Linked DNA regions of Homo sapiens: all the other regions are linked to region 1. Evidence: fine-mapped expression QTL. A gene starts in region 1. Each other region holds a variant in brackets. All regions are shown on one strand. Distances are between the middles of the regions. Region 1 holds the start of LINC00662 (long intergenic non-protein coding RNA 662). Region 2 has its middle 59 kb from the start of LINC02987. Region 3 has its middle 24 kb from the start of LINC02987. Region 4 has its middle 420 kb from the start of LINC02987. Region 5 has its middle 52 kb from the start of LINC02987. Region 6 has its middle 85 kb from the start of LINC02987. Region 7 overlaps LINC02987 (long intergenic non-protein coding RNA 2987).

The links. PIP is the estimated chance that this variant, and not a neighbour inherited with it, causes the effect.
Region 2: its variant is the best candidate, but not a certain one, in a credible set for the expression of LINC00662 in testis (GTEx, PIP 0.59).
Region 3: its variant is the best candidate, but not a certain one, in a credible set for the expression of LINC00662 in lymphoblastoid cells (TwinsUK, PIP 0.55).
Region 4: its variant is the best candidate, but not a certain one, in a credible set for the expression of LINC00662 in esophagus muscle (GTEx, PIP 0.89).
Region 5: its variant is the best candidate, but not a certain one, in a credible set for the expression of LINC00662 in whole blood (INTERVAL, PIP 0.60).
Region 6: its variant is the best candidate, but not a certain one, in a credible set for the expression of LINC00662 in whole blood (INTERVAL, PIP 0.70).
Region 7: its variant is the best candidate, but not a certain one, in a credible set for the expression of LINC00662 in blood mononuclear cells (TOPMed, PIP 0.79).

Annotation. Positions count from the first base shown.
Region 1 is chr19:27,791,593-27,795,592 of GRCh38, reverse strand. LINC00662 (long intergenic non-protein coding RNA 662) reads left to right here and starts at 1,653. Exons shown (of 3, transcript NR_027301.1): 1 at 1,653-2,061; 2 at 2,361-2,593; 3 at 3,692-4,000. LINC02987 (long intergenic non-protein coding RNA 2987) reads right to left here and starts at 2,162. Exons shown (of 7, transcript NR_146733.1): 1 at 1,984-2,162. RefSeq lists enhancers at 1-274, 1,441-1,920.
Region 2 is chr19:27,732,797-27,736,796 of GRCh38, reverse strand. No RefSeq gene overlaps it. Among named protein-coding and RNA genes, the nearest start is that of LINC02987, 59 kb to the left of the region's middle. The variant C/A (reference allele first, on the strand shown) is at 1,717.
Region 3 is chr19:27,767,699-27,771,698 of GRCh38, reverse strand. No RefSeq gene overlaps it. Among named protein-coding and RNA genes, the nearest start is that of LINC02987, 24 kb to the left of the region's middle. The variant C/AC (reference allele first, on the strand shown) is at 1,865.
Region 4 is chr19:27,375,861-27,379,860 of GRCh38, reverse strand. No RefSeq gene overlaps it. Among named protein-coding and RNA genes, the nearest start is that of LINC02987, 420 kb to the left of the region's middle. The variant C/T (reference allele first, on the strand shown) is at 2,340.
Region 5 is chr19:27,739,860-27,743,859 of GRCh38, reverse strand. No RefSeq gene overlaps it. Among named protein-coding and RNA genes, the nearest start is that of LINC02987, 52 kb to the left of the region's middle. The variant G/A (reference allele first, on the strand shown) is at 1,646.
Region 6 is chr19:27,706,032-27,710,031 of GRCh38, reverse strand. No RefSeq gene overlaps it. Among named protein-coding and RNA genes, the nearest start is that of LINC02987, 85 kb to the left of the region's middle. The variant G/A (reference allele first, on the strand shown) is at 1,895.
Region 7 is chr19:27,921,888-27,925,887 of GRCh38, reverse strand. The region is part of intron 2 of LINC02987 (long intergenic non-protein coding RNA 2987); the gene reads right to left. Among named protein-coding and RNA genes, the nearest start is that of LINC00662, 130 kb to the right of the region's middle. The variant G/A (reference allele first, on the strand shown) is at 1,647.

The sequences.
Region 1 (4,000 bases):
GAGTAAGGGCATGAGGCAGGGGGCCCCAAGCCAAGTTGAACACTGGGGTACCGTCCCTGGAGCAGCCTGGGGTACCCTGACAGCACCCATGCCCCAGTCTGCACACACCCCTTGTTCTGAAATTAACAGCCTGCAGGGGTGTCCTCAGTATCAGAACTAGTGGGCCACACAAAGCCCTGGAGGACTCTACAAACCCAGGTCCATGGGGAGCAGCCCTGTAAGGGCCAGATGGCTGGGTGGAAAAGCTGACCAAGTCTTCCTTCCTTTCAGCCAAATCTGGAAGAAAGGCACCTTGCCTAGAGCAGTGTTCCTGGTACCCAGGCCTCTGTGGGCATCCTTCAGCACAAAGACCCTCTCCAAGGGGGGATGGGCTGGCCCTCCCAGGACCACCAACCCACTTCCAGAAGCCCATGGGTCATCCCCACCTTCACCTGACTGGGCTGTCCCTGACGCTAAGGCCCAGCAGCACGAAGGGGATTCCACACAAATCAGGGCAGTAGGCTGCTCTCTGGCGGCACTGGGGGCTTAGGGTCTGGCCAGCCTGTCCCTGGCTCAGGACACATGCCTGGAAATTAGGGTTTTCTCCTCTGCTCTTAGCATCTCCTGGGTAAACCAATAATTACTCTCCCTCATGTCTCAAAATTCACATCTATCTAAAAGGCGCTAGTGAGGGTGACATTTCCAGGAAGCCATAGCCCATGTCACCCCCTGCAAAGCTGTGACCTTTTCCGCGGGCAGGCCAGGCGGCGGAGTTCTCCCAAAAGCGGATGAACTGGCACTCTGGCTGGAGAAAGCAGAGAGCAGCAGCACAATGGACAGCGTCTGGGACCTCAGGCCGATTCCACAGCAGCTTAGGAAAGCAGGAGGCCCCCTGGGCGGGAGGAGGCTTGATGCTCTGGAGGGAAACGGAACTGAGCAGCGGGAGGTGGGGTGAGCCTGAGACCCGACCGATTTTGGCAAAGGCGAGGCGCACTTTGCAGTATCATACTCTCCTCACTGCCCAGCCCAGACCTGCCCTTCAAGTCCCTCTATGGACTCACTCCCCTTAGCCAGGGGTGGCACAGATTCAGTAGCCAGCATGGGTTTGGAAACAGAGGTCAACACCGCCCTGCCCCTCCCTGCGGGGCTGCGCAACACCCTTGAACCCTGCGCATGCTGAGACTGTAGTCCCATAGCCCTGCGACCAACGGCCGGAAGCAGCTAAGACACTATTACCAGCATGCCCGGCAGGAGGGCACCGCGCTGCCCCCCCCCCTCAAGGGACCAGCATCATCCCCACTCCCGTAGCATACTGGGATTGTAGTCCCGCAGCTCTGCCACCAACAGCCAGAAGCAGTTAAAAAACTGTTCCTCTCAGCATGCCCTGCAAGGCGCGCACCGCTGCTGTACCTCCCTTAACGTATCCGTAACCTCCCTCAACGTATCCGTACCTCCCTCAACGTATCCATACCTCCCTCAAGGTATCCGTACCTTCCTCAAGCTATCCGCACCACCCTCTCTTCCATTTCATGCGAAGATTGTAGTCCCGCAGCCCTGCGACCAGCGGCCGGAAGCAGCTAAGATGCTACTGCTCCCAGCATGCCCCGCGAGGCGCGCACAGCACAGGCCCTCTCTCAAGGTCACCACCTCCACTCCCGTTGTATGCTGGGATTGTAGTCCGGCCGCCCTGTGACTAACGGCTGGAACCGCCTAAGACACCACCCCAGCCAGCATGGCCGGCAGGAGCGCACCGCGCTGTCTCCCTCCAGGGATCCGCACCGCCCTACAATCCTGCTTTGTGCTGAGATTGTAGTCCTGCAGGCGTACAACTAACAAGCTGGGTGCAGATAAGAGACTACAGCTCCCCGCATCCCAAGCAAAGGTCCCTCCTCTACGGAGCCCCTCCACGCGTCCACTGCGGTTCCGCCGTGCCAAGGGGAGCTTGGCTGTTCACGGGCCTCACCTGCTAGCGAGAAGATAGCTTGGCCGGGCGGCTGATCTCACCTTGTAATTCTGACACTGTGTCTCCCGGGCTTGTCGGCTTCATGACTTGTGCCCAAAGTTTGATTTCTCGCAGACCAGGTAAAAGCCAAGAGGCTCTCATAGGCGCCTTGGCAGAGTTGCCATTGGAACGGGCGTCCTCTAGTAGCTGGGATCTCCCCGCCCCTTCCTCCTGAGGGGCCACTCCTTTCTGCCCCACCCTTCTTATTGCCCCACCCTTTGCCACACTCCTTCAGAGATGCGCAGTGCTGCCCCTTTCTATGGGCAGGGCCGAAGGTCCGCGTGTAAAAGTACCCAGTCCCTGGTAACCTGACACTTCCCTTTTAAAAGCCACCTTTTGTCTATCTCTGGCCTGCCACGATTCTTCCTGTGCTCCATAGGAGGACCCATTGGACCCCCGGGCTGGCTGCAGGGCCCACACCTGGGTTAGACCTCGCACAGGGACGCTGCTGCCACTGTAATAAAGCGTGCCTACACGCTTCTGAAACTGGTGTAGGAACAACCTCAGTTCTGTGAAAGGCGGACGCAGCAGGACAGAATCTCCGTGGACATCTGTCTGGAGGAGCAATTTTACTGCGACATTTTAAAGAAACAAATTTAATTGATTTCCAAGGTAAGAAATTAAACCTTGAAAACTAAACTGAAAAGTCATCTGTGTTTGACAAGTCAGACTTTCTCCAAGAAGAAAACTAAGGAGTGCATATTTTCCATTATTATAAATAGTGAAAATGAGAAATCATAGCAACTCCCTGGAAAATCTTGCTCTGCCAGTTTTCTAAATCACAGTAGGGCCTCGATATGGTTTTATTTGTTTTTGTTTTTGTTTTGGAGTGTGTTCACCTTTTGAATATAAGAATTTGCGGTTTTGACCAAGTTTTTAAATTTTCAGCTATTGTTTATTTGTTTTTGTATTATATTTAATTTTTCTGTCTCTCCCTCTCTGTCTCAGACTCAATCATTTCACAGGTCTCTTAGGCCTCTTTTCATTTTCTTTAAACTTGTTTCAGTCTTCAGATTGGATGGTTTATATTGCTGTCTTCTGTTTCTACTCTGTAAACTAAAAGTTCTTTTTATTTTATTATTTTATTGTCTTCTATTTTACTCTTTTTATAATTTCCATGTCTCTGCTGAGACTCTACATGAGTTAATTCATTATGAGAATATTTTCCTTTACCCCCATGAACGTACTTATAATAGCTGCCCTGAAATACTTGTCTGCTGATTACATCATCTCGGACATCTTAGAAATAGCTTCTGCTGCCTGCTTTTTATCTTGTGTATAGTTTGCATGTTACATTTCTTCACACATTTTATGAATTTTAATATTGTGTAATAGAAATTATAAATATTAGTTATAGAGACTAAATTCTGTTGTATTCTTTGGAAGAGCATTGTTATTATTTGAAGAGGGGGTAAATGTGGCTGAATTCAAACAGAATAATTATCTTCCCTACGGTGGGAAAGGTTGAAATTCTCATTCAGTCACACACACGTATGTATGTATTGTATATAGATGAATGTTTCTATGTAACTATATATAATATTTTATCCAGATTGTATCATTGTTATCTGTGAGAGTGTTAGTTTAGCAAGCTACTCCAGTATTACCGGAAGCCAGAACTTCAGTTTTGTTTTCTTACTGGATTTTATGTAAATGAGAGTATCTACTATGGATAGTTTTACACCTACTTTTTCTTTTTTTCTTTTTTAGTTATTTGAGACAGAGTCTCGCTCTGTCACCAGGCTGTACAGTGCCGTGGCCTGTCTCGGCTCACTGCAACCTCCACCTCCTGGGTTCAAGCGATTCTTATGCCTCAGCCTCCCAAGTATCTGGGACTACAGGCATGCGCCACCACGCCCAGCTGATTTTTGTATTTTTAGTAGAGACGGGGTTTCACCATGTTGACCAGGATGGTCTCAATCTCTTGACCTCGTTATCCGGCTGCCTCCTCCTCCCAAAGTGCTGGGATTACAGGCGTGAGCCACCATGCCTGGCCACATCTACTTTTTTAAATGTGTC
Region 2 (4,000 bases), 59 kb after region 1:
CCCAGGCAAACCTAGGCATTCTAATCAGAGAGACTCCTGGCTGAACCCCAGCATTCTAATGATGAAGACAAGTGGGCCACCCCAATCATTGTAATGATAGAGACATCTGGGCAATGCAAAGGATTCTAATGTGAGAGACTCCTGGTGAACCCCAGTGATTCTAATGGGAGAGACTCTTGTCAAACTTCAGGCAGTCTAAGGATAGAGAAACCTGGGTAACTCCAGGCATTCTAATAAGAGAGACTCCATAACGAACCCAGGCAGTTTAATGATAGAGACACTTAGGGGACCCCAGGCATTTTAATGGGAGACTTTTGGCTGACCACAGGCAGTCTAATGATAGAGACAGCTGGCGATCCCAGGCATTCTAATGTGAAAGAAGTTTGGCCGGCCATAGGCAGTCTAATGAAAGTGAAACTTGGGCTACCACAGGCATTCTAATGAGAGAGACTCCTAGCTGACCTAAGGCAATCTGATAAGAGACACCTGGGCAATCAAAGGTATTCTAATAATAGAGACTCCCATCCAACCCAAGGCATTTTAATGGGAGAGACTTCTGACGGACCCAAGCAGTCTATTGATAGAGACACCTGGGAGACCCCAGACATTTTAATGGGAGAGACTCCCAGCCAATACCAGGCAGTCTAATGAAACAAACACCTGGGTGACCGAAGGTGTTCTAATGGGAGAGACTCTCAGCCAACCCCAAAAATCTAATGATTGAGATACCTGTGCGACCCCAGGCATTCTAGTGGGAGAGACCCATGTCTAATTTCAGGCAGTCTATTGATAGAGACAAATGGGCGACCACATGCATTCTAATGGGAGACACTTCTGCTCAACTCCAGGCATTTTAATAGGAGAGGCTCCTGGCCAACCCAAAGCTTGCTAATAACAGAGACACCTGCTTGACCCCAGGCATTCTAATGTGAGAGACTTTTGGCAAACTGCAGGCAGTTTATTGATAGAGACACCTTGACGAGCACAGGCATTCTAATGGAAGAGACCCCTGGCTGACCCCAGGCAGTCTAATTAAAGAGACACCTGGGTGTCTTCAGGCGTTCTAAAAGGGGAGACTCCCAGCAGAACCCAGGCATTCTACTGGGAGAGACTTCTGGCTGAAAGAGGCAGTCTATGCATAGAGACACCTGGGAAACTCCAGGCATTCTAATGGGAGAGATTCCTGGCTGACCCCAGGTAATCTAATTATAGAGACACCTGAGAGACCTCAGGCATTCTAATGGTAGAGACTCCCTGCTGACTCCAGGAAGTCTGATGACGGAGACATTTGGGCGACTGCAGGCATTCTAATGACAGACACTCCCGGCCGACCCCAGGCAGTCTAATGATAGAGACAACTGGGTGAACACAGACATTCTAATGAGAGAAACTCCTGGTCAACTTGAGGCTTTTTAATGATAGAGACACCTGAGTGGCCCCAGGCATTGTAATGATATAGACACCTCCACGACACCAGGCACTCAAATAAGAGAGACTCCTGGCCAGCACCAGGCATTCTGATGAAAGAGACACCTGGCCAAACCCAGGCAGTCTAATGATAGAAACACCTGGGTGAACCCAGGCATTCTAATGGGAGAATTTCCCATTTAACCCGAAGCAGTCTAATGATGGAGACATCTAGGCAGCTTCAGGCATTCTGATAGGAGAGGGTCCTGGCCAAACCCAGTGATTCTTATGGGAGAGAATCTTGTCTGA[C/A]CCCAGGCAGTCTAAAGATAGAGACTCCTTCATGACCACAGGCATTCTAATGGGAGAGACGTTCTGCCAAACCCAGGCAGTCTAATGATAGAGACACCTGGGTGACCCCAAGCATTCCAAAGGAAAAGGCTCCTGGCCAACCCCAGGCAGTCTAATTATACAGATTTTTGGGTGACTCCAGGCATTCTAATGAGAGAGACTCCTGGCCAACCCCAGGCAGTCTAATGATAAAGACAGTTGGGCTACCCCAAACTTTCTAATAGAAGAGACTCCTGCATGACCCCAGGCATTCTAGTGATAGAGACAGCTGAGCGAACCCAGGCATTCTAACTGGAGAGAATCCAGACCAACTCCAGGCAGTCTAATGATAGAGACACCTGGGCCACCCAAACATTCTGATGAAAGAGACTACTGGCCGACTTCAGATAGTCTAATGATAGAGCCACCCGGGTGATCATAGGCATTCTAATGGGAGAGACTCCTGGCCAACCCCAAGCATTTTAATGATAAAGACATTTGGGCAACCACAGGCATTCTAATGGGAGAGAATTTTGGCTGAACTCAGGAATTCTAATGATAAAGACATCTTGGCAACCCTAGGCAGCCTAATGATAAAGACACCTCAGCGACCCCAGGTATTTTTATTAGAGAGGCCCCCCAATCCTGGCATTCTAATGATAAAGACACCTGAACGACCCAAGGCATTTTAATGGGAGAGATTCCTGGCTGACCCCTGGCAATCAAATGATAGAGACTCCTGAGTGACCTCAGGCAGTCTAATGATAGAGATATCTGGCTGTCCACAGGTATTTTTATGGGAGAGACCCCAGTCAGCCCCAGGCATTTTAGTGATAGTGAAACTTGAACAACCCCAGGCATTCTAATGGGAGAGGCTCCCGGCTGACCCCAGGCATTCTAATGATAGAGTCACCTAAGTGACCTCAGGCATTCTAACTTTAGATATTCCCAGCAAACCTCATGCATTCTGATGGGAGAGATTCCTGGCTGGCCCCAGGCCATCTAATGATACAGACGCTTGGGCAATTCCAAGCATTCTAATTAAAGAGACTCCTGGCTGACAACAAGCAGTCTAATTAAAGAGATACCAGGGTGGCCCCAGGCATTCTAATAGCGGAGAACCCCAGCTGACACCAGAGATTCTAATCAGAAAGACTTCCAGCTGAAATCAGGCAGCCTATATAGACACCTTGGTGACCCAAGGTATTCTAATGGGAGAGACTCCTGGCCAACCACAGGCAGTCTAATGATAGAAACACCTGGAAGAGCACAGGAATTTTAATGGGAGAGAGTTTTGGCTGACCCCAGGCAGTCTTACGATTGAAATACCTGGGAGACTCCAGGCATTCTAATTTTAGAGACTCCTGGCAAACCCCAGGCATTCTAAAAAGAGACTCCTAGTAACCACAAACAGTCTAGTGATAGAGACACCTGGGAAACCATAGGAATTCTAATGGGAGAGATTCTTGGCCCAACCCCAGCATTCTAATGATGAAGAAAAGTGGGTGAGGCAAAGCATTTTAATAATAGAGACACCTAGGTGACCCCAGGCCTTCTAATTCAAGAAACTATTGGCCAACACCAAGCATTCTAATAGAGAGACTGCTGGTGAACACAGGTGTCCTATGAATAGAGACACCTGGATGATCCCAAGCATTCTGATGAAAGAGACTCTTGGCCGACAACAGGCAATCTAATTATACAGACTCCTGAGCAACAGCAGGCATTCTAATGGGAGAGACTCCTGACTGACCCCAGACAGTCTAATGATAGAAACATCTGGGTGACATTTCTGAGTCTTTTGAAACCTATAGTAAAAAACTGAATATCCCACTATAAAAACAAGAAACAAGCTCTCTGATTAAATGCTTTGTAAATTGTGGGTTCACCTCACAGAGTTAGAACTCTATTTTCATTCAAAGGGTTAGAAACACTTTTTTTGTAGAATCTATGAAGGGGCATTTCTGAGTCCATTGAGGCCTCTAGTGAAAAACTGAATATCCCATGATAAAAACAACAAACAAGCTATCTGTGAAAGTGGTTTGCAATGTGAACATTCATCTCACAGAGCTAAATCAATCTTTTGATTCAACAGGCTGGAAACACTCTTTTTGTAGAACATACAAATGGACATTTCTAAGCACATTGAGGCCTATAATGAAAAATCAAATATCCCACAATGAAAACTAGAAGGAAGCTATCTGTGATAATGCTTTGTGGTGTATGGATTCATCTCACTGACTGAAACCTGAGTTTTGATTCACCA
Region 3 (4,000 bases), 24 kb after region 1:
TTCTGGCCCAAGTTGTCTGGGCAACCTTAGACATGGTAAGGCAAGAGCCATCTGATCAACATTAGACATGGCAAGGTGAAAGCCATCTGGTCGACAGGGATTCTAATAGAAGACACTCTGGGCCGATGGCAGACGTCTAATAATAGAGACAAAGGGTGAGCCCGGACATTTTAATGGGAGAGAAGCCTGGATGACCCCAGGTATTCTAATGTTAGAAACACCTACGTGACTCCAGGCCTCCTAATGGTGGAGACTCCCAGCCTACCCCAGGCATTCTCTTGTGAGAGACTTCTGGCTGACCCCAGGCAGTCTATTTATGGAGACACCTGGGAGACCCCAGGCATTCTGGGAGGAACTCCTGGCCAACCGCAGGGAGTCTAATGATAGAAACACCTGAACGACCACAGGAATTCTAATGGAAGAGACCCCTGGCAGGCCCCAGGCAGTCTAATGATAGAGGCACCTGGGTGGCCCCAGGTATTCTAACCAGAGAGACTCCTGGCCAACCCCAGGCAGTCTAATCATAGAGACACCTGGGTGACCCCAGGCATTCTAATGAGAAAGACTCCCGTGTGACAGCAGGCAGTCTAATGATAGAGACACCTGGGTGACCCTAAGCATTCTAATAGGAAAGACTCCTGGCTGACCCCAGGCAGTCTAATGATACAGATACCTGGGTGACCCCAGGCATTCTAATGTGAGAGATGCCCTGCTACATTCAGGAAGTCTAATGATAGAGACAATTTGACGACCCCAGGCATTCAAATGGGAAGGCTCCCAGCCAACCCCAGGCATTCTAATGGCAGAGACTCCCCGCTGACCCTAGGCATTCTAATGATAGAGACACCTGGGCCACCCCAGGTATGGGAGAAACTCTCAGGTAAACTCAAGTATTCTAACAGAGGTACTCCTGGCTGGCCCCAGGCAGTCTAATGATAGAGACAGCTGGGTGACCACGGGTGTTCTAATGGGAGAGACTCCTGGTCAACCCCAGGCAGTCTAATTATTAAAGACACCTGGGCTACCCCAGACATTCTAATGGGAGCAACTCCCGACCAACCCCAGGCAGTCTAATGATAGAGACATGTGGGCCATCACAAGAATTCTAATGGAAGAGGTTCCTGGCTGACCCCAGGAGAGACACCATTCTAATGGGAGAGACTCTGGGCCGTTTCCAGGCTGTCTAATGATAGAGAAACCTGGGCGACTGCAGGCATTTTAATGAGAGCGGCTCCTGTCCGAACACCAGCAGTCTAATGATAGAGACACCTGGGCAACCCCAGACATTCTAATGGGAGAAAATCCTGTGCAATCCCAGGCAGTCTAATTATAAAGACACCTGGGCAACCCCAGGCATTCTAATGGGAGAGACCCCCGGCTGACACCAGGCATTCTTATGGGAATGACTCCTGGCTGAGCCAGGCAGTCTAAAGATAGAGACACCTGGGCATACCAAAGCATTCTAATGGGATAGACTAACGGCTGACCCAAGGTAGTCTAATGATAGAGACACCTGGATGGCCCCAGGCATACTAATGGAAGAGACTCCTGGCTGACACCAAGCATTCTAATGATAGAGACAACTGATCAACCCTAGGCATTGAAATGGAAGAGACTCCTTCTCGAACCCAAGCATTCTAATAATAGAGACAGCTAATCAACTACAGGCATTTTGGAGAAACTCCCGATCAACCACAGACATTCTAATAATAGAGACACCTGGGCGACCACAGGCATTCCAATGGGAGAGACTCCTGGCCAACACCAGGTGGTCTAATTATAGAGACACCTGGGTGACCCCACGCATTCAAATGGGAGAGACTCCTGGCCGACCCCAGGTGGTCTAATTATAAAAAAAAAAAAA[C/AC]CTAGGTGACCCCAGTCATTCTAATGGCAGAGACTATCAGCTGAACCCAGGTATTCTAATGGGAGAGACTCCTGGCTGACCCTAGACTACCTTAGGTAGTCTAGTTATAAACACACCTGGCCAAACCCAGGCATTTTAATGGGGAAGACTACTGGCCAATCCAAAGCATTCTAATGATAGAGACACCTAAGCGACTCCAGGCATTTTAATGGGAAAGACTCCCAGCCGACCTGAGACATTCTAATGGAAGAGAGCCTTGGTTGACCCCAGGCAATCAAAGAATAGTAACACCTGGGCGACTCCAGGCATTCTAATAGGAAAGAGTCCTAGATGACACCAGGAAATCTAATTATAAAAACACCAGGGTGACCCAAGGCATTGTAATGGGAGACACTCCTGGCAGAACCCAACAGTCTAACGATTGAGACACCAGTGCAACTCAAAGCATTGTAATGGAAGAGACTCCCGCAGACACCAGACAGTCTAATAATAAATTCACCTGGACGACCCAAGGCATTCCAATGGGAAAGACTCCCAGCCGACACCAAGTAGTCTAATGATAAAAACACATGAGTGATTCCCGGCATTCTAATGGGAGAAACTACCAGTTGATCACAGGCTGTATCATGATAGAGACACATGCATTTTAATGGGAGACACTTCTGGCTGACCTGGGGCAGTCTAATGATGGAAACACCTGGGCAAAACCAGGTATTATAATGGGAGAGACTGCTGGCTGAAGCCAGGCATTGTAATGATAGAGACACCTGGGCAATCCAGGCATTCTAATGGGACAGACCTTTGGCTGATTCCAGGGTTTCTAATAATAGAGACACCTGGTCGACCCCTGGCTTTCTAATGGGAGAGACTTGTGTGGACCGCCAGGCAGTCTAATGATAGAGACACCTCGGGGACCCCAGGAAATCCAATGGGAGAAACTTCCAGGTGACCCCATTCATTCTAATGATAGAGACACCTGGGCGACCAGATGCATTTTAATGGAAGAGACTCCTGAACGACCTCAGGCATTCTTATGATAGAGACAGTTGGGAGACCCTAGGCATTCTAATAAATCGAACTCCTGGGCGATCACAGGCAGTCTAAGATTAGAGACACCTGGGTGACCACAGACATTCTAATGGGAGAGACTCCTTGCTGACCACAGGCAGTCTAAGGATAGAAACACGTTAGCATTCGCCAAGACACCTTGGCGATCACAGGCATTCTAATGAAAGAGACTCATGGCCGACCCTAGGCAGTCTAATAATAGACATACTTGGGTGACCCCAAAAATTCTAATGTGAGAGACTCCCAGTTGACGTCAGGCAGTTTAATAAATGTGAGAGACTCCCGGCCGACCCCAGGTACTCTAATGATAGAAGAACCTGGGCCACATCTGGCATTCTAATGGAAGAGACTCCTGGCCGACCCCAGGCGGTCTAATGATAAACCTGGGCGGCCCAATGCATTCTAATGGGAAAAACTCTGGTCCAAACCCCAGCATTTTAATGGGAGAGACTCCTGGCTGACCCCAGGTGGTCTAACTAAAGAGACACCTGAGAGAACCCAGGCATTCTAATGGGAAAGACTACCGGCCAACCCCAGGCATTCTAATGATAGAGACACCTTGTTGAGCCCAGTCTTTCTAATGGAAGAGAATCCCATCCAACCCAAGACAGTCTAATAAGACACCTGGGCGACCCCAGGCATTCTAAAGAGACACCTAGGCGACTCCAGGCGATATTATAGCAGAGACTCCCAGCCAACACCAGACAATGAAAGAAACTCCCAGCGGATGCCAGGCAGTCTAATGATAGAGACACCTGGGCAACCCCAGGCATTGTAATGGGAGAGACTCCGGTCCAATCCCAGGCATTCTAATGAGAGAAACACCTGGCTGACCCCAGGCAGTCTAATAATAGAGAACCTGGGTGAACCCAGGAATGCTACTGAAAGAGACTCCCGGCCAATCTCAGGCAGTCTAATGATACAGACCTCTGTGCAACCCCAGGCATTCTAATAATAAAGACTTCCAGCCGAACCCAGACAGTCTAATGATAGAGAGACCTTAACGTCCCCAGACATTCTAACGAGAAGAACTTCTTGCTGACCACAGGCAGTCTAATGATAGAGACA
Region 4 (4,000 bases), 420 kb after region 1:
AAGGACTCCAAATATCCACTTTCAGATTCTACAAAAAATGGTTTTCAAAACTGCTCTGTCAACAGATAAGTTCAGTTCTATGAGTTGAAGGCATACATCAAAAAGAAGTTCATCAGAAGGCATCTGTGTAGTTTTTACGTAAAGATATTACCTTTTCCACGAGGCCTCAAAGCTCTCCAAACATCCACTTGCAGATTCTACAAAAAGAGTGTTTCCAATCTGCTCAATCGAAAGAAAGTTTCATCTCTGTGACATGACTGTACACATCACATAGAAGATTATCAGAATGCCTCTGTGTAGTTTTTATATGAAGATATTTCCTTTTCCACTAGAGGCCGCAATGCTCTCCAAATATCCACTTGCAGATTCTACAAAAAGAGTGTTTCAAAACTGTTCAATCAAAAGAAATATTCAAATCTGTGAGATGAATGCACACATCACAAAGATGTTTCTCAGAACGCTTCTGTGTAGTTTTTATTTGAAGATATTTCCTTTTTCACCATAGGCCGCAAAGGGCTCCAAATATCCACTTGCAGTTTCTAGAAAAAAAGAGTTTCAAAGCTGCTCAATCAAAAGATATGTTCAACACTATTAGATGAATGCACACATCACCAAATGTTTATCAGAATGCTTCTGAGTAATTCTTATGTGAAGATATTTACTTTTCCAGCACACGCTGCAAAAGTCTCCAAATATTCACTTGCAGATTCTGCAAAAAGAGAGTTTCAAAACTGCTCAATCAAAAGAAATTTTCAACTCGGTGTGTTGAATGCACACATCACAAAGTATTTTGTCAGAATGCTTCTTTGTAGATTTGTGTGAAGATAATTCCTTTTTCATAATAGGCCTCAATGTGCTCCTAATATCCACTTGCAGATTCTACAAAAAGAGAGTTTCAAAACTACTCAATCAAAAGGTAGGTTCAACTGCGTGAATTGAATGCACACATCAAAAAGAAGTTTCACAGAATGCTTCTTAGCAGTTTTTATGTGAAGGTATTTCCTTTACCAGAATTGGCCTCAAAGCGCTCCAAATATCCTCTTGCATATTCTACAAAAAGGGTGTTTCAAAACAGCTCAATCAAAAGAAATGTTCAACTCTGTGAGATGAATGCACATATCACAAAGAAGTTTCTCAGAATGCTTCTGTGTAGTTTTTATGTGAAGATATTTCCTTTCCCACGATTGGCCTCAAAGTGCTTAAAATATCCACCTGCAGATTCTATACAAAGTGTGGTTCAAAATTGCTCAATCAAAAGATAGGTAAAACTCTGTGAGATGAATGCACACGTCCTAATAATGTTTCTCAAAATGCTTCTATATAGTTTTTATGTGAACTTATTCCCTTTTCCAAAATAGGCCGGAAAGGGCTCCAAAAATTTACATGCAGATTCTACAAAAAGTGAGATTCAAAACTGCTCAATCAAAAGATAGGTTCAACGCTGGGAGTTGAATGCACACATCACAAAGTATTTTCTCACAATGCTTCTGCGTAGTTTCTATGTGAAGATATGTCCTTTTCCACAAAAGGCCTCAAAGCACTCCAAATATCCACTTGCAGATTCTACAAAAAGAGGGTTTCAAAACTGCTCAATCAAAAGAAACGTTCAACTCTGTGAGATGAATGTACACATCACAAACAAGTTTCTCAGAATGCCTCTGTTTAGTTTTTATGTGAAGATATTTCCTTTTTGACAATAGGCCTCAAAGCACTCCAAATATCCACTTGCAGATTCTACAAAAAGAGTGTTTCTAAACTGCTCTATGAAAAAAATGGTTTAACTCTCTGAGATGAATGCACACATCACAAAGAAGTTTCTCAGAATGCTTCTATGTAGTTTTTATGTGAAGATATTACCTTTTCCACAATAATCCTGAAAGCGCTCCAAATATCAACTTGCAGATTCTACAAAAAGTCTGTTTCCAAACTGCTCAATCAAAAGAATGTTTCAACTCTGTGAGATGAATACACACATCACAATGACGTTTCTGAGAATGCTTCTATGTAGTTTTTATGTGAAGATATTTCCTTTTCCACAATAGGACTCAAAGCGCTTCAAATATCCACTTGCAGATTCTATAAAAAGAGTGTTTCAAAACTGCTCAATCAAAAGATAGGTTCAACTCTGTGAGTTGAATGCACACATCATAAAGAAGTTTCTCAGAATGCTTCTGGGTAGTTTTTATGTGAAGATATTTCCTTTTCCACAATACGCCACAAAGCGCTCCAAATATCCACTTGCAGATTCTGCAAAAAGAGTCTTTCCAAACTGCTCAATCAAAAGAAAGTTTGAACTGTGTTTGATGAATGCATACATCACAAAGAAGTTTCTCAGAATG[C/T]TTCCGTGTAGTTTTTAAGTGAAGATATTTCCTTTTCCACAATAGGACTTAAATCGCTCCAAATATCCACTTGCAAATTCTACCAAAAGATTGTCTCAAAACTGTTAATCAAATGAAACTTTCATCTCTGTGAGATGAAGGCACACATCACAAAGAAGTTTATCAGAATGCTTCTGTGTAGCTTTTATGTGAAGACATTTCCTTTTACACCATAAGCCACAAATGGCTCCAAATATCCACTTGCAGATTCTACGAAAGGGGACTTTCAAAACTGCTCTATGAAAAGATAGCTTCAACTCTGTGAGGTGAATGCACACACACCAAGGAAGTTTCTCAGAAGGCTTCTGTGTAGTTTTTATGTGAAGATATTTCCTTTTCCAAAATAGGCTGAAAAGGGCTCCAAATATCCACTTGCAGATTCTACAGAAAGAGAGACTGAAAACTGCTCAATCAAAAGATAGGTTCAACTCTGTGAGTTCAATGCGCACATCATAAATTTGTTTCTCAGAATGCTTCTGGGTAGTTTTTATGTGAAGATATTTCCTTTTCCACAGTAGGCCACAAAGCGCTCCAAAGATCCACTTGCAGATTCTACAAAAAGAGTCTTTCCTAACTGCTCAATCAAAAGAAAGTTTGAACTGTGTTTGTTGAATGCACACATCACAAAGAAGTTTCTCAGAATATTTCCTTGTAGTTTTTATGTGAAGATATTTCCTTTTCCACAATAGGACTTAAATCGCTCCAAATATCCACTTGCAAATTCTACCAAAATATTGTTTCAAAACTGTTAATCAAATGAAAGTTTCAACTTTGTGAGACGAATGCACACATCAGAAAGAAGTTTATCAGAATGCCTCTGTGTAGCTTTTATGTGAAGACATTTCCTTTTACGCCATAAGCTGCAAATGGCTCCAAATATCCACTTGCAGATTCTACAAAAGGGGAGTTTCAAAACTGCTCTATGAAAAGATAGCTTCAACTCTGTGAGTTGAAGGCACACATCACAAGGAAGTTTCTCAGAATGCTTCTGTGTAGTTTTTATGTGAAGATATTTTCTTTTCCACCATAAGCCTCAAAGCATTCCAAATATCCACTTGCAGATTCTACAAAAAGCGTGTTTCTAAACTGCTCAATCAAAAGAAGGGTTCACCTTTGTGAGATGAATGCACACATCACAAAGAAGTTTCTCACATTGCTTTTGTGCAGTTTTTGTGTGAAGATATTTCCTTTTCTGCCATAGGCCTCAAAGGGCTCCAACTATCCACTTGCAGCTGCTACAAAAGAGAGTTTCAAAACTGCACAGGTAGGAAGCATCAATATCGTGAAAATCGCCATACTGCCCCCCAAGTAACTTATAGATTCAATGCCATCCCCATCAAGATACCAATGATTTTCTTCACAGAATTGGAAAAAACTACTTTAAAGTTCATATGACACCAAAAAAGAGTCCACATCGCCAAGTCAGTCCTATACCAAAAGAACAAAGCTGGAGGCATCATGCTACCTGACTTCAATCTATACTACAAGGCTACAGTAACTAAAACAGCATGCTACTGGTACCAAAACAGAGATATAGATCAATGCAACAGAACAGAGCCCTCAGAAGTAATGCCGTATATTTACAACCATCTGATCTTTGACAAACCTGACAAAAACAAGCA
Region 5 (4,000 bases), 52 kb after region 1:
CAGCTGACACCAGGCATTCTAATAAGGGAGACTTTTGGCCGACCCCAGGTGGTCAAATATTAAAGACAGTTGGGCAAACCCAAGCATTCTAATGAAGAGAATATTATCTAACCCCAGGCAGTCTAATGATAGAGACACCTGGGCAACACCAGGCATTATAATGGGAGAGACTCCCAACCAACCCAAGGCAGTCTAATGATAGAGACACCTTGGTGACCGGTGACCGCAGGCATTCTAATGGGAGCGACTGCTTGCCAACCCCATGCAGTCTAATTAAAGTGACAAGTTGGTGACCCCATGCATTTTAATGGAAGAGACTACTACTGGTCGTCCCAAGGTATTGTAATGACAGAGACACCTGGGTGACCCCAGGCATTTCAATGATAGAGACTCCTGTGGACCCCAGGCACTCAGATGGGAGTTATTCTTGGCTGACACCAGGCATTCTAATGAGAGAGACCCCCAGCCGACCACAGGCATCCTAAAGATAGAGACACCTGGGTGACACCAGGCATTTTAATGGAAGAGACTCCCAAACAACCCCAGACAGTATAATGACAGACTCACCTAGGCAGCCCCAGGCATTCTAATAGGAGAGACTCGAGGCCAAACCTTGGCATTCAAATGATAGAGACAAGTGGGTGGCTCCAATCATTTTCAGGATAAAGACACCTGAGTGACCATAGGAATTCTAATGTGAGAGGCTCCTGGCCAACCTCTGGCATTCTAATGGAGAGACAACTGGCTAAGCATAGGCAGTCTAATGATAGAGATACCTGGGTGATCCCAGGCATTCTAATGGGAGAGACCCCTGGCCGACCCCAGTCAGTCTAATTAAATAGACACCTGGGTGACCCCAGGCATTAAAATAAGAGAGACTCCTACCCAATCTCAGACATTCTAATGGGGGAGACTTCTGGCAGTTTATTGATAGAGACACCTGGGCGACCTCAGGCATTCTAATAAGAGAGATTCCTGGCCGACCCCAGACGGTCTATGCATAGGGACACCTGGGCGATTCCAGGCATTATAATGGGAGAGTCTTACGGTTGACCCCAGGCAGTCTATGGATAGAGACAACTGGGCGATTGCAGGCATTCTAATGCAAGAGACTCTCTGCCAACCCGAGGCATTCTAATGATAGAGAAACCTGGGAGACCCCAGGCATTGTAATTATTTAGGCACCAGTGAGACCCCAGGCATTCTAATGGGAGAGAATTTTGGTTGACATCAGACATTCTAATGAGAGACTCCTGTCTGATGCCAGGCAGTCTAACAATAGAGACACGTGGGCAACCCAGGTATTCTAATGGGAGAGACTTCCAGTCATCCCTAGACAGTCTAATGATAGAGAAACTGGGAGACCCAGACATTTTAATGGGAGAGACTCCTGGCCAACCCAAGCAGTCTATGGATAGAGACTTGGGTGACAACAGGCATTCTAATGAGAGAGATTTCTGGCCCACCCCAGGCATTCTAATGATAGAGACAAGTGGGCAACCCCAAGCATTTCAATGATAGAGACACCTGGGCAACCACAGGTATTCTAATGTTACAGACTCAGGGCTAACCTCAGACATTCTAATGGAGAGATTCCTGGCTAAGCACAGGCAGTCTAATGATAGACATACCTGGACTACCACAG[G/A]CATTTTAATAGGAGAGACTCCTGGCCGACTAAACGCAGTCTAATTAAAGTGACAAATGGGCAACTCCTGGCATTCTAATGGGAGAGACTCCTGGCCAACTGCATGCAGTTTTATTAAAAAGACACCTGGGCGACCCCAGGCATTCAAATAAGAGAGAATCCTAGCTGACCCAAGGCATTCTAATGGGAGACACTCCTGGCTGACCCAAGCAGTCTGTTGATAGAGACACCTGGGTGACTGGAGGCATTCTAATGGGAGAGATTCCTGGCTGACCTCACACAGTCTAATTATAGAGAAACTTGGGTGACCCCAGGCATTCTAATGGGAGAGACTAATGGCCGCAGTGGCTGGCATGAAATTAACCAACCCTGGGTTTAGTATAGCTTAAACTTTCATTTATTGCTAGGCTGACCCCAGGCAGTCTAATGATAGAGACAAATAGGCAACCGCAGGCATTTCAGTGAAAGAGACTCCTGGATGACCACAGACAGTCTAATGATAGAGGCATCTGGGTGACCCTAGGCATTGTAATGAGAAAGACGCCTGGACGACCTCAGGCAGTATAATTAAAGACCCCTGGGTGCCACCAGGCATTCTAATAGGAGAGTCTTTCGGCTGACCGAAAGCATTCTATTGGGAGTGACTCCTGTTTGACTCCAAGCAGTCTATGCATACAGACCACCTAAGCGACCCCAGGCATTCTAATGAAATACATACCTGGCCGAACCCAGACAGTCTAATTATAGAGACACTTTGGCGACCCCAGGCATTCTAATGAAAGAGACTTTCATCTGACATCTGAAAGTCTAAGGATAGAGACTCCTGGGCGACCCCAGGCATTCTAATGGGAGAGAGCCCTGGTCGAACCCAGGAAGCTCAATTATACAGACTCCTGGGCGACCACAAGCATTCTAATAGGAGAGACTCTCAGCCCACCCCAGGCAGTCTAAAAATAGAGGTACTTGGGCCACCCAAGTCATTCTAATGGAGGAGACTCCCCAACGACCCCAGGCAATCTAATGTTAGAGACACTAATGAAAGATACTCCCAGACAACACCAGTCAGTGTGATGAAAGAGACACTTGGGTGACCCCAGGTGTTCTTATGGGAAAGACTCTCAGACCACCGCAGGCATTCTAGTGATAGGGATACCTGTGCAACCCCAGGCAGTCTAATGATAGAGACACCTGGGAAACCCCAGGCAGTCTAAATAAGAGACACCTAAGCGACCCCACGCTTTCTAATAAAAGAGACTCCCAGGCGACCCAAGGCATTTTAATCAGACTCCTGGCCAAACCCTGACAATCTAATGATGGGGACAAGTGGGCCACCCCAATCATTTTAATGATAGAGACACCTGAGTGACCCCAGACATTCTAATGTGAGAGACTCCTGGCAAGCTCCAGCGATTCTAATGGGAGAAACTCTTGTCTGGCTTCAGGCAGTCTAAGGATAGGGAAATTTGGGTGACTGTAGGCATTCTAATATGAGACTCCCAGCCGAACCCAGGCAGTCTAATAATAGAGACACTTGGGGGACCTCAGGAATTTTAATGGGAGAAACTTTTGGCTGACCACATGCAGTCTAATGATAGAAAACCCTGGGTGGCCCCAGGCATTCTAATGTGAGAGACTTTTGGCCAACCACAGGCAGTCTAATTGAAGTGAAAGGTGGGTGGCCCCAGGCATGCTAATGGGAGAGACTCCTGGCTGAACCCAGGGAGTCCATTGATAGGGACCTCTGGGTGACCACACACACTCTAATAATAACGACTCTTGGACGACCCCAGGCAGTCTAATTAAAATGACCACTGGGTGACCTGAGGCATTCTAGTAGGAGAGACTTAGCCGGCCCAAGGCATTCTAATGGAAGTGACTCGTGGCCTACACCAGGCAATCTATGCATAGAGACACCTAAGGGACCCCAGGCATTCTAATGGGATAGATTCCTGGCCAGCCCTAGGAAATCTAATAATAGAGACACCTGGGCGATTGCAGGCATTCTAATGCGGGAGACTCTTGGCAGACATGAGGCTTTCTAATGATAGGGACACATGGGCAACCCAGGCATTGCAATGATAGAGACACCTGTGAGAACCCAGGCACTCTAATGGGAGAAACTTTCCGTTGACACCAGGCATTCGATTGAGAGAGACTCCTGTCTGACACCAGGCAGTCTAATGAGAGAGAAACCTGGGAGAGACTCTTGGCTGACCCAAGCAGTCTATGGGTAGAGACACATGGGTGACCCCAAGCACTCTAATGGGGAAGATTTCTAGCTGACTCCAGGCAGTCTAATGATAGAAACACCTGGGCAACCCCAGGCATTCTAATAAGAGATACTCCTGTGTGACC
Region 6 (4,000 bases), 86 kb after region 1:
CTGTCTCACTACAATGCTTGTCAACCTCCACAGTAGGAGGTGGGATGGTTGATATCTGTAGTACTATTCCTCTGAATTTACTTCTTGATTCTTTGCCCTTGATTGTCCCCACGGGGGTCACTGGCCCTTTATCTCAAGGTTCGGTGGGCCGGGTGTTAGGTAGAGCATCCACCTCTGCTAAGGGAGTCACCATTCAAACTGGTCTCATTAAATCTGATTCCGTTGACGAGATTAAATTAATTGTGTCTGCCAAGGTTCCTGTTTCCATTCTGGCTGGTGAGTCAATTGCTCAATTGCTTTTACTACCTAATATCATTTTAAACAAAAGAGATAAGACACATGGCCCTGGGATGGGCTCTGGCAGTGAAAAGGCCGCTTATTGGATTAATGTAATTGCTAAACAACAGCCCACCTGCACCATACACATTGAAGGAAGAAAGTTTGAGGGCTTAGTAGATACTGGTGGTGATGTTTCTCTTATTTCCTCTAGTTTATGGCCTTCCTCTTGGCTTAAACATCCCACTAACATGGGACTAGTAGGTGTTGGAAAGGCCAAGGAAGTTTATGAGAGCACATTTATTTTGCCTTGCACTGGCCCTGATGGTCAAAAGGGTAAAATTCAGCCCTATATCATGCCAATTCCCATTGATCTTTGGGGTAGAGATTTACTGGCACAATGGCGGGCTGAAATTAATATTCCACGTAACTCTTATAATGCTCCCAGTCAGCATATGATGGAAAATATGGGGTTTGTTCCTGGACTCGGTCTCAGACCACAGCACGAGGGGATTAGTAAACCCCTCCCAGTTACTATAAAAGAAAACAGGGCTGGTTTAGGTTATCCTTTTTAGTGGCAGCTGCTGCCACGCCTCCTGATCCTATTCCTTTGCAATGGAAATCTGACACACCTGTTTGGGTTCAGCAGTGGCCGCTTTCTAAAGAAAAACTGGGAGATTTAAATCAATTGGTTTCTGAGCAGTTGCAACTTGGAAATGTGGAACCTTCTCTTTCCCCTTGGAATTCTCCTGTGTTTCTAGTAAAAAAGAAATCAGGCAAATGGCGGATGGTAACTGATTTAAGGGCCATTAACACTGTAATTAAACCTATGGGGGCCGTCCAACCTGGCTTGCCTGCCCCTGCTCTAATACCTAAAAATTGGCCTCTCATAGTTATTGATCTTAAAGATTGCTTTTTTTCATATTGCTTTACATAAATCGGATTGTGAAAAATTTGCTTTTACTGTACCATCTATCAATAATCAGGAGCCTGCAGCTCATAATTGTTGGAAAGTACTTCTTCAGGGAATGCTAAATAGCCCTACAATCTGCCAGCTTTATGTTGGACAAGAGCTTTCACCAGTTCAAGCCCAATTTCCTGAGGTGTATATTCTTCATTATATTGATGACATTTTAATTGCTGCCCCCAATGATAAAGAATTAATTGACTGTTACCACATTTTAAGCCACTGTGTTACAGAGGCTAGATTACACGTCGCTCAGGATAAAATTCAACAGATCACTCCTGTTCAATATTTAGGAATGGTGATCGATAAACAATGTATTCAACCTCAAAAATTTCAAATTAGGAGAGATTCTTTAAACACTTTAAATGACTTTCAAAACCTTTTGGGTAACGTAAATTATTTAAAACCTACTTTAGGCATTCCAACTTATGCGCTGTGTAACTTGTTCTCTATGCTGTGGGGAGATTCCGATCTCCACAGCCCCGGGACTTTGACCCCTGAGGCTTTACTAGAACTGGAATTCATAGAGGAAAGAATTCAGACCTCCCAGTTATCTAGAGTACAGCCGTTTCAGCCTTTTCAGTTTCTGTTTTTTGCTTCATCACACTCCCCTACTGGACTAATAGTTCAACATAATGATTTAATGGAGTG[G/A]CGTTTCCTTCCTCATTCTATGTCCAAAACTTTGTTTATGTAGACCAAATAGCCATATTAATTGGGCAGGCTCAGTGTAGAATACTTCAAATTTCTAGATTTGATCCAAATGTAATTGTACTTCCTTTAAATTGGCTTGAAGTTCAATCTGCCTTTCAACATTCTGTACTGTGGCAAATTCACTTGGCTGATTTTATTGGCGTTATTGACAATCATTATTCAAAAAACAAATTGTTTGATTTTTATATAAATGACGTCTTGGGTGGTTCCTCAATTAACCAAAGATCAACCCATTCCTGAGGCCATTACAGTGTTCACTGATGGCTCCAGTAATGGCAATGCTGGTTACATAGGTCCTACAGACAAACTTATTTCTACCTCTTATGCTTCTGCTCAAAAGGTGGAGTTAATTGCTGTGATTACTGCCTTACAGGATTTCCTCAAACCTTTAAATATTGTCTCAGATTCTGCTTATGTTGTACATGCCACTAAAAATATAGAAACTGCTGCTATCAAACACATTGATAATTCTGAATTGGCTTCTTTATTTTCAAGGTTACAACAGGTGGTTCACCAACGTAGACACCCTTTCTATATTACACATATTGGGTCTCATACCACTTTACCAGGACCCATGTCTGCTGGTAACCATAAAGTCAACTGTTTGGTCTCTTTTACAACCCAAGAAGCTCAGGAGTTCCATAATCTCACTCATGTCAATGCCGCTGGATTAAAAGATAAATTTGCTCTTACCTGGAAACAGGCTAAGTTTATTGTTCACGGCTGCTCTCAGTGCCAGGTCTTCGTACTTCCAAATCAGGAACCTTGTGTTAATCCTAGAGGCCTAACTCCTAATGCTTTATGGAAAATGGATGTGACTCATGTTAGCTCCTTTGGCATACTGTCATATGTGCATGTCTCTGCAGATACCTTCTCAGGTTTTATCTGGGCTACTTGCCAAACAGGGGAAGGCAGGGCCTATGTTAAAAAAAATCTGTATTCTTGCTTTGCAGTTATGGGGCTTCCATATCAAATAAAGACACAATGTCCCTGGATATGTTAGTAAGGCTTTTGATTCATTTATGCAACAGTGGGGAATTTCCCATATTACTGGAATCCCTTACAATCCTCAGGGACAGGCTGTGGTGGAACGGGCCAATCACACTTTAAAAACCCAATTGTCCAAACAGTCTGAACAACCTAAACATGATTTAACTACTCCCCACTCCCAATTACATTTGGCATTGTTTACTTTAATTTTTTTAAATGTTTCTAAAGATAATACTCTAACTGCAGCTGAACGCCATTATACAGGCAAAAAATTTTCCTTAAACGAAGGCAAACCAGTGTTATGGAAAAACTCCCAAGCCAATACCTGGGAATCTGGCACAATTATAACGTAGGGAAGAGGATATGCCTGGTTTCACCAGGAGATCATCAATCCCCTGTCTGGGAACCCACCAGAAGATTCAAGCTTCGGGTGAACACTGACAATGAAAACCACAGAGAAAAGACGTCTGTGTCAGAGACTACCTTCAGAAGTGGTAAGATCTGTGCCAACTGCTCAGAAAAAGGCACACCAAATCACAATGGATTTAAATCAATCCTCCCTGATGGCAATGGAGACCCATCTAACTAATCCCACTTCTCCTGATTACCTTTCTTTTTCTCCTTACAAACCTAAAAATCTCACCATTTCTATTAGCCTGAAAATAACATCCCTCTGTTCTTCTCTTCCTCCTTCAGCCTTCAATCTCATTTACACTAGGTTTTATTTAATGATTCTCCTCCTTATACTTTCTGTCTCACCAGTTTCCTCTCACACTGATTTACCTGCTACACATAATTATTCTTATTGGGCTTATGTGCCTCTTCCTCCACTTATTCGACCTCTCACCAGGGTAGATGCTCCTGCACAAATCTACACTAACGATAGTGTGTGACTGCCTGGAGCCACAGATGACCGTTGCCCTGCTCAACCAGGAGAAGAAGGCACTGCATTTAATGTTACCATGGGTTGTAAATACCCGTCTCTGTGCCTCAGACATGCACCTGGTTGCATCCATCTGGAAACTCAAGTCTAGGCTGCTTATCTTCCGGAAAGAT
Region 7 (4,000 bases), 130 kb before region 1:
CTCAAAGTTGAACGTAACTGTGTATCTCCTAGTCTTTTCATTTACATCTAATGGACATAAACCTATTTATTCCCCTGCCACAAAAATATACTAGCAAAGCTATTTGCAGTAGGAAAAAAAGAAAAAGAGAATTCTAGCACTGGCTGTGTATGTGATTGACTTCTGGATCTACTCTCTAAAAGTATTCTTTACTTTTTTAGCTAGGAATTATCAAGTAACTTGATCTTTAGGTAGCAAACTGGGAGATTCAGTATAGATCCATTTGACTCAAAAGTTCCTCACTGTTTCATCTTTAAACTGGGTAGAAAAAAAATTACAAACCTCTAGAACATTCCCAATTCAGCACCAATAAACTCTTCCTCTCTCCTTTCCTCACCAAAGCATCTATAGTTCCTTACACATCTTTCATCATGGTCCACCCTCACCCACCAAGGCTTTCGTGAGTCCCAATCACCCATAAATTCTTCTTACTGCTATCCACCCACTTGTGCAGCCTCCTTTCATCTCCCACTCATCCTTCCATGCGCAACCTCCAGACTTCAAGCACACACAAGCCTCACCATTCTCCTTTTCTGTACATTCCAATCCATGCCTATGTCAACATGTTATCATTCTGAGACACACCTCAACTATAGCAGCCCTGACCACCCATCTCTGTGGATCTTCAGTTTGGTCCTTCCCAATCAACTTTAAATGCCTAAGAGTGAGGATAGTCTCTCCTCAGCTCTGGATAAATTCCTGCATTCTCTCTCAACTACCTAGTGGTTGTGTGCGCTTACCAAAGATATCAAATCCATGTCTTAGGTTCTCAATATGTAAAGCAACTGCTTGAAAAGAGTGTTATCAAAATTAAGTGAGGCCAGGCATAGTGGCTCATGTCTATAATCCCAGTACTTTAGGAAGCTGAGGTGGGTGGATCACCTGAGGCCAGGAGTTTGAGACCAACCTGACCAACATGGTGAAACCCCATCTCTACTAAAAACACAAAATTAGCCGGGCATGGTGGCGCATACCTGTAATCCCAGCTACTTGGGAGCCTGAGGCAAGAGAATTGCTTGAACCCAAGAGGCAGAGGTTGCAGTGAGCCAAGATCATGCCACTGCACTCTAGTCTGGGCAACAAGAGCGAAGCTCCGTATCAAAAAACAAAAAACAACAACAAAAAAAACAAATTCATGTCTTAGTTTCTCAATATGTAAAGCAACTGCTTGAAAAGAGTGTTATCAAGATTAAGAGAGGCTGGGCACGGTGGTTCATGCCTGTAATCCCAGCGCTTTGGGAGGCCAAAGCAGGTGGATCATGAGGTCAGAAGTTCAAGACCAGCCTCGCCAACATGGTGAAACCCCGTGTCTACTAAAAACACAAAAAGTAGGCGGGCATGGTGGCAGGAGCCTGTAATCCCAGCTACTCATGAGGCAGAGGCAGGAGAATCACTTGAACTTGGGATGAGGAGGTTGTAGTGAGCCGAGATGACAACACTGCACTCAAGCCTGGGTGACAGAGTGAGTCTCCATCTCAAAAAAAAAAAAAAAAAAAAAAAAGATTAAGTAACTTCAGGTAAAAGATTAATTAAAAAGAGATAGGACCACAACTATAACCACAAATGACCTGTTCTTTCTTATTCTCCCATATAATTTAAAATTAATC[G/A]GCTGGGTGAGGTGGCTTATGCTTGTAATCCCAGCACTTTGGGAGGCTGAGGCAGGCAGATCACCTGAGGTCAGGAATTCGAGACCAGCCTGGTAACATGGTGAGACCCTGTTTCTACAAAAAATTAGCTGGGCGTGTTGGCACGCGCCTGTAATCCCAGCTACTCGGGAGGCTGAGGCAAGAGAATTGCTTGAACCTAGGAGGTGGAGGTTGCAGTGAATGGAGATCGTGCCATTGCACTCTAGCTTGGGCAAAAAGAGCAAAACTCCATCTCAAATAATAATAATAATAATAATAATAATAAAATTCATCTTCACATCTTAATCCATATTCACCCATTTTTATCTAACTCCCTTCTTGCTTGTCCATTAACTGCTGGTCCTAGTTAATGCAACTAGAAAGTAATGGACAGTCTCCAACAAGAGATGGGCATAAAAAAGTCTGGAGGGCTGCCTAACACGTCCCTCACCTCCATACCCAGAGCACCATCACCACCCACTCCACGAGCTATCACAGTCATCAACCATCCCCAATCTCTCTCGTTAAATATGTAACCCCAAGGGTTGTTGTCTCACCAAAGTTCACACTTGCAAACCTAAAGACTAGATCTGGAAGGTATTTCCTACAAGCGAATGCAGTGCCGACATTTATCCAATAGCTTATAAAGCAGACAGAGCAAGCAATTCATGAATCATTTAACAAACGTTACAGAAAAACTCCCCTAACTTTAGTAACAGGAAAAGATGCAATTCAGATAGCAACAGAACCTGGTTTTAGCATTGACCATTCAGTGTTAAAGAGGCAAAAACAAAAAAAAATTAAGATGCGTTTTCTTATAACAAAGTATAAATATCCTAGGGGAATAAGATAATTTAACAAATGTTTATGAGTCTTAATTTTCAAAACTGCTCTGGGGAAAAATGCTTACACACATGCGCAGTAGAACTGTCCTACATGGACCAAGCCTCTAATGAGATGAATTTATCTCATCTGTCATCATTTGTCACTTTCTCAGATCTCCAGAGGCACGCTCAGATGGAGCTAGGAGAAAGACCTCATAGGACGTGGGAAATGCCAATGAAAATAATGCTCTCATCACATGTATAAACTATTCAGACTGCTCTGCAGCTGCTGATGCAAGAACATCAAACTGTAGAAGTGTAAAGAAAAGGAGCACATGAAACTTTACTTCTGTTGACTAAAACAAAGAAAATAACTTACTTCATTTTCTTTAATAAAAGTCTCAAATTCCAAGGAGAAGAAGATTTGGAGAGATGTTTACTGTATTTAATACTTAAGTACTATATTGAGTCATGCCATACAATCATACAAATGAACTGAGATAAAGCTTTTAAAAAGATATATTTAAAAACTTTCATACACTTAAACTTTCATAAACTCCTTCATACACTTAAAACATATTTTAAGTGTATAAAAGAGATACAGGCCTAGAAAATTCCAGGACTATAAGGATTCCTAGTGTCTGTTCCTGTACCATCTAAAGGAAAAAATAAATAGGCTCTTACCTATTAAAAGTGTAAGTATTAAAATCTCAAAGCAATTTTCTCCCACTCATAAACCCACTCTCTTTCTATCTCTCTCTGCCCCCATCTCTTCTGCTTTCTCTCCCCTTCCCACCCTCTAGCCTCCTGCAACATGTACTATTTTCTGACAAGTCTTCTGGGGTCATAGCTTGCTCTTCTGATAAAAGCTTCTCATTTTTCTTCAGTGACATGGCTGTCTTAACAATTGGCTGGTGTAACTACCTCCAAGAAATGAAGATAAAGAACACAAAGCTGCATGGGTCCATCAGAAATCTTGGGGCTAGTTATGCCTCTGAATTCAGGATTTTCCAATTTTATATAGTTATATGCGCATTCTAGACCATTTATCATAATGCCCCCTGCACGGTCTGGGGTAACACTGCTTGCTATAACATATCCACTTCCTGCAGAAAATTGTATGAAAGTCACATGCAGTGAGATTCATAAAGATTATAATAGCCTCATGTCAGTTCTGATTAGATTTTGCTGCCAAATGACTATTCCCCAAACTTAGGACAAAACTTTTGGAATTCAAAGGCTTTTGGATCTTGGTGCAGATAAGAGATGGTAACTCTGCACCTGGTTTTAGGGCAATTAATCAAATGCTCTTCTTCTTTGGGTTCTTTCAAGTTAGAAGTCAAGAATCACAATTTCTTTCCATCTACAAAATCCCAGATGCTGTGTATGCTGTTTCTAAAGGTTTTTGTTTTTGTTTTTAGACAGGGTCTCACTCTGTTGCCCAGGCTGGAGTGCAGTGGTGCAATCACATCTCATAGCAGCATCAACCACCTGGGCTCAAGCGATCCTCTC